Regions from separate parts of the Homo sapiens genome. Here region 1 is linked to region 2. Evidence: fine-mapped expression QTL. A gene starts in region 2. The other region holds a variant in brackets. All regions are shown on one strand. Distances are from middle to middle.

Region 1 (2,907 bases), 150 kb after region 2:
TTAGAGCTACAGCAAGGACAGGTGAGGCGGATGGACCAGAGATAATAAATTCCCTTTGCCAAATCTAAGTTCTTGCTCTGCGAGCCCAGAAGAGGAGAAGCAAGCCTCACCTAAACAACTCCAATGGGGAAGGCGTGAGGTGGCGTGAGGGAGGGAGGATTCCACAGAAAGCACCTCTGCGATCCCGTCTCTCCTCTGCTCTACAATCACTGGTCCCCATTGCTCAGAGGATCAAGTCCAAGCTTCCCAGGCACCTACTCATGGTCTCCAAACACACGGGTCCTCCCCACCTTTCTGGTGCCATCCCCACTCCCTACCATACAGTCTTGGTGGCCACTAACTTGACTGGCTCACTGCCCATTCAGTGGAACTGCATCCACATGGGTCTCTCTTCCTCGCAGAACATGCCAACTAGGGGCAGCAAAGGGAGCTCCGTGGGATGAACTAGCTCACTGCAGCCTCCACCTCTACCTGGGCTTTAGCAATCCTCCCTCCTCAGCCTCCCAAGTAGCTGGTACTGCAGGTACACACCACCACATGCAGCTAATTTTTTAGTTTGTTTTACAGACAGAGTCTTGCTATGTTGCCCAGATTGGTCTCCATCTCCCAGGCTCAAGCAATCCTCCTGCCTCAGCCTACTGAGTTGCTGGGACTTACAGGTGTGAGCCACCATGCCTGGCTAACGATAACCTGTGTGACTTGGAAGCCCAGCTCCATCCCTGAGTAACTCACTGACTGAACAAATTACTTGACTATCCAGCCTGTTTTCCTCACCTGCAAATGGGCTTCTTTGAAGCCCAGCACATTCACTACCTTTTCTCCTCGGCCGCCTCCTTCTTTACTGTTCTGGGGTGTTATCTGCCTTTCTAAGCCTAGAGCTAGTGGGGTCACTGTACCAGAACTGCTGCCCCAGCACTCCTGTGCTCTGTCCTGTCTGCCTTCTGGAGACAACAGAACTGCTTTTGGTGGCTCCCCCGCCCCTCCCAGGGCCCCTCCTCCGGGGTCTCGCAGTTCGGGTTGGGGTCTGTACTGATGAATCCCAGAGACCCAGCACAGCCTTGGAGGCTCACCGGGGTCTCACTGCCCAGCCTGGAAGCACGCGGGGCAGAGACCTGGGCTTCTGATCTCTGCCTCCCTGCAACCCCTCAAGAAGCGCTGAGCAGCCCGTAGGCGCGCCAGGGCCGTGGGTGGACTGCCTGCCTGCACATTCTCGCACCTTCCTGGAGGAAGCTTCCAGAACAGAACAAGGAAGACCAACGGCTGGGTGGGGTTCCCTCGGTGGAGGAGCCGCAGGGGCCCAGCTTGGGAACCGGGTTATCAGGGGTGTGGCTCTGCAGAAAGCGTCCTGCCACGTCTCCCTCCCTGTCAACCTTGGGGAAGGAGAGA[G/C]GCACCCTTGGGGACAGAACTGGCCAGTTTCACCGGCGGCGGCTTCCGCAGGAACGCGGAGGAGGGAGACAAGGGGGCGGGGGAACACTTCCTGTTGGGCAGGAATGGGTGTTACATAGCTAGATCTTTAAGCATCAGAAAGACAGCTACCAGACCCACTATGGCTGGGAGGTGGCAGGGGATGGGAAAGGTGGCCCTGTCACCTCCGAGAAGGCGCCTTCAGCCTGGGGAGACGCTGTGAGCAAACCCCCTGAAAGCCTTGTGGGGCCATCATGTGTGCTCTGGAGCCCTCTTGTGGATTCTTGCGGTAAGTGCATACAGGCTTGCAGTGCGTTTCTCCCACGTTTTAACCTTTCGCTTGTTCTCTCCTCCTCCCACCACTCTTCCCAGTAAATGACACCTTCAAAACCACACGCACACTCGAGCAAAACGTCTGTTGTGGATACCATGAGAGTCACTTCCTAAATACCCTGAAAGAAAGAGCTTTTTGACACACAATTAACACATTTGTCTGCTCCTGGGCAAATGTCAATATTTGCTCATTGAAATTTCCCTCCCTCATCCACACTAAAAGAAACAAAATAACTCCTCCGGTTGTCTGGCTCTTATTATTACTTGGAATCCATGTCTGAAGTCGTTTGAGTTTCTAACTCATCCACCAACCAAATGTCATAAACCTTTGTGGGAACTGTGAAAATAGGAACGAACGGTGAGCCAGTCGTTCATTCATTCACTCACTCATTCAGCAAGAACTTACTGAGCACTTCGTTTGTCCAAGCAAGGTGCCAAGGATGCTGGGAAGCAGCCGTGCCATCATGCTAAGAGCAAAGCCTGTGAAATCAGGCACACATGAGGCCGCCTTCCCGCTTGCTTTCTATTAATACAAGCTTTGTGACATTGAGTAATACATACGAAGAACCAGTTTTCCCATTATTTGCTAAAAGCGGGATGATAGAACCTCCTCATAAAGGTGCGGTGAGGAATAAATGAGATAATGTCATAAAGCACTTAGCTCCTAGAGTGGCGGCTGCTGCTATGATATACAGAATGACCACCAGGTCTGGAAATGTATGTGAACACAGAATTCATGGCTGGTTGATAATTAAACAATATTGCCTGTGTCTCCGGACTTTACGACCCCCCTGTGTTGCCCCTGCCCTTGATGAGTTTTCAGTCTAGGCTACTGGTTCTCGAAGTGTGGGCCCCAGAGCAGCCACAGCAGCATAACCTGAGAATGTGTTGGAAGTGCAAATTCTAGACCCTCTGAATCCGAAACTCTAGGGGTAGGGCCCAGCCATCTGTGCTCCAACAAACCCTCCAGTGATTGTGATACACGCTCCAGTTGGAGAGTTACTAATCTAGTGGAAAATGACACAAGTATAAGCAAATAACTACCATACACGGACACATCCCTGAAGAAGTGACATCATGGGCAGGGCTTGAAGGAAGAACAAGTGTTCTCAGGTGGGCATGAGCCACATGAGGAGAGATTGGCACCTACAAAGCCCCGGAAGCATGAAA
Region 2 (2,907 bases):
ACCAAGGTCATTACCATGGTCTATAAGTCTCCAGTGTCCTGACCCCTCAGTGACATCCCTGACCTAAACTCCTATGATTCTCCCCTCACCTCACTTTGCTCCAGGTATACCCACCTCCTTGTTGTTCTTCAAACACACCAAGTATGCTAATGCCTCAGGGCCTTTGCACTGCCTGTCCCTGCTTCCTGAACATTTCCCCTCCAGAGAGCTGCGTGGCTTTGCTTCCTCACTTCCTATAGATCTCTGAAAAAAGATCTGAATAAAGGCTCACCTTCTCAGTGAGGCTTCCCTGACCACTCTATATAAAATAGCGACCCCTCCTACCTCGAACTCCATAGCCTCCTCTTGTTTTATTTTCATCTGGAGGACTTATCATCTTCTGATATACTATATACTTCTTTCTGTTAATTACCTGTCTCCCCTCTCTAGAATGTAAGCAGGGAGTCAGTTTCATTTAATGTTGGACACTCTATATCCAACACAGTGCTTGGCACACAGCAGAGACAAATCTGTTGAGTGAACAAAAGAATGTTGTCACCAATTCTCAGATGAAAAACCAAGGCTCAGAGGCTTTAAGTAACTCACCCAAATGAAGCCCACAGAGCCACGGTTCTTCCCATGGCCCCAGACTTGTTCCAAGACCTCCTCCCTACCTCTTCCCCCAAAAGAAGGGGAAGGATGTTTAGGAGTGAGGGTATGGTGGTTTGGTCAGGGGAGTGGAGTTTAGTTTTTTATAAGAAGCCCCCAGGGCCACAGGAGACCTTGATGGTGTGGGGAAAGATGTCTGAATGGGCAGAGGCCTCCTGAGTCCACCTTTGTGGCAACCCAGTTCTAAGAACCCGGGATGGGAAAGGGGTCAGTGTGAATGGGGAACCTGCCAGGCCCCCTGGGCACCAGCCTCTAGCTACCTGTGGGCCCTGAGCAACTCCCACCCGCTGGAGGGTAGGGAGCCACACCCCACCCTGCCTGCTGCCCCAGGGTGCCAGCACAGCATCTCCCAGCCCCTGGCTCCAGAGGTCACGCTTGTAGTGACAGAGAGCCCAGCTGGGAGAGAGAGCCAGCCGGCAGGGAGCCTGGCCTGGATAGCCCATTGCAGCCCCGCTCATCCCACTTACTCTGCCATTCGGTGATGGAGATCATGCCGCACTCAGCCTGGGGGGCTTTCCGGGTGGAAGCGGGCAAGTGGAGCGTGGCCCAGAGGACGCAGCTGGTACATGGTCACGGGAAGCTGACCCTTGGTTAAGTTGCGAAATGAGCCTGTGGCAAATCATTAACTCTCCCTCCAGCCCCCGCTCCACCCCCGCACACCACGCAGGTGCTTCTACTCGCCAGCTCCCTCCTCCCGTTTTCCGGTAGGGCAATGCCCCGCCCCTCCACCTGCCGCGCCTGCCCGGGGAAGGCACCGCCCACCTGACCCTTTCCTCGCACCTCGCGGTGTTCTGCGGCTCTCGTCTGCTCCGCGAAACTTAGATTGTATGTGGAAGCATTGGAATCTAGGGGGTGCTCAAGTTTCTTGCTTGGTTTGATAGTGTGGGAAGAGTTGGCATCTGCGCATCCCTTTGGGAATGTACTAAATTCATCTTGAAAGTCAAGCTTTTTGCTCTCTGCTATTGCACATGCTAGGCGCTGGGAGGCGATGAGCGACTGAGCACAAAGCCTGTTGTTGACCTAATGGCAGAGCCAGATCGGGTTAAATCAATGGCAAAAGCGCCATGGGGGAAGTTAGACGTGAAGGTCTTCGACCTCCTTTCCCCAAGCGGCGTCCAAGCTTTGGACTGACTGTGATGTTGAGCTATGGAAGACAAAGCCCTGAATTTGGGGTTGGGGCAGGACTGCACAATTTAGGAGGCCTGGTTCTAGTCTACCCACCAGCTGTGTAGACATGGATTCGTCCTTTGGGCCTGCAAAAAGAGAGGCAGTTAGTTCCTAACATCCTTTTTTCCCATCGCAGAGCAGTGGTTCTGACGTGGCATTGATGCCAGGAGAGCCAACATCCACTTTGCAATGTCTTCTGTGTCCAGAAATGAAGAAATGAATTTCAAAGACTACCTATATACATCATTTAAAAATGCAAATAGGCCTGGCATACAAAATGCATTATGTCTGTAATCCCAGCATTTTGGGAGGCCAAGGCAGGAGGATTGCTTGAGCCCAGGAGTTTGAGACCAGCCTGAGCAACATAGTGAGACCTTGTCTCTACAATAATAAAAATAAAAAATTAGCCGGATGTGGTGGTACCTGCCTGTAGTCCCAGCTACTGGGGAGGCTAAGGTAGGAGGATTGCTTGAGCCCAGAAGGTCGAGGCTGCGATGAGCTGTGATCAAGCCATGCACTCCAGCCTGGGTAGCAGAGCGAGATCCTGTCTCAAAAAAAAACAAACCAAACAACAACAACAAAACCAAGGAAAGCTAACATAATTTTTTAAAAAGAAACAAAAAGATAAATTATAATAAAACATGATGTCTTTCAATATATAAATGTTCAGGCAAGACTTACCAGAAGACATAAATGAAATAGGCAGATTGCTTGCACCCACACATAATATATGTTTGAATTTAAGAGAAATAGAAGATGAGCCATTCTATGCAAAAACAAAAATCACACACATGCAAGAAAATGAAAGAGTAGCAGGAAGTGAACATAGAATAAAAACTGTTAGATAAGGAATAACAGACCAGACGTACTTGCATATGATGAGAGGGAAAGCATCTTAATTGAAATAGGGATAACATAGCAAGGCAAATTAGAGAGCACAAGGTGGAGATAATATAGAAGTATGATGTGCATGCAAAGGAACTCAGTCTTAGGTATGTGTGTATTGTCAAAATAGCTCCCATGGAATGGGGTCGCCATAGAGTACCACAGACACATCAACCTCTGTCTTGAAACATATCAGCGTTGAGGTAA

Alleles and levels. Alleles are on the strand shown, and positions count from the first base shown. SD is a standard deviation of normalised expression in the study named.
For the expression in sun-exposed skin of the gene that starts at base 1,222 in region 2, allele G in region 1 goes with a lower level than allele C (small effect, 0.28 SD a copy in GTEx).

What was found. PIP is the estimated chance that this variant, and not a neighbour inherited with it, causes the effect.
Region 1: its variant is fine-mapped to the expression of GOLT1A in sun-exposed skin (GTEx, PIP 0.93).

The regions. Positions count from the first base shown.
Region 1 is chr1:204,362,167-204,365,073 of GRCh38, forward strand. It overlaps a transcript of PLEKHA6 not described here. Among named protein-coding and RNA genes, the nearest start is that of PLEKHA6, 3.7 kb to the left of the region's middle. RefSeq lists an enhancer at 639-1,192. The variant G/C (reference allele first, on the strand shown) is at 1,387.
Region 2 is chr1:204,212,767-204,215,673 of GRCh38, forward strand. It overlaps GOLT1A (golgi transport 1A), which reads right to left and starts at 1,222. Exons shown (of 5, transcript NM_198447.2): 1 at 1,116-1,222. The coding sequence starts at 1,140. RefSeq lists an enhancer at 1,093-1,749.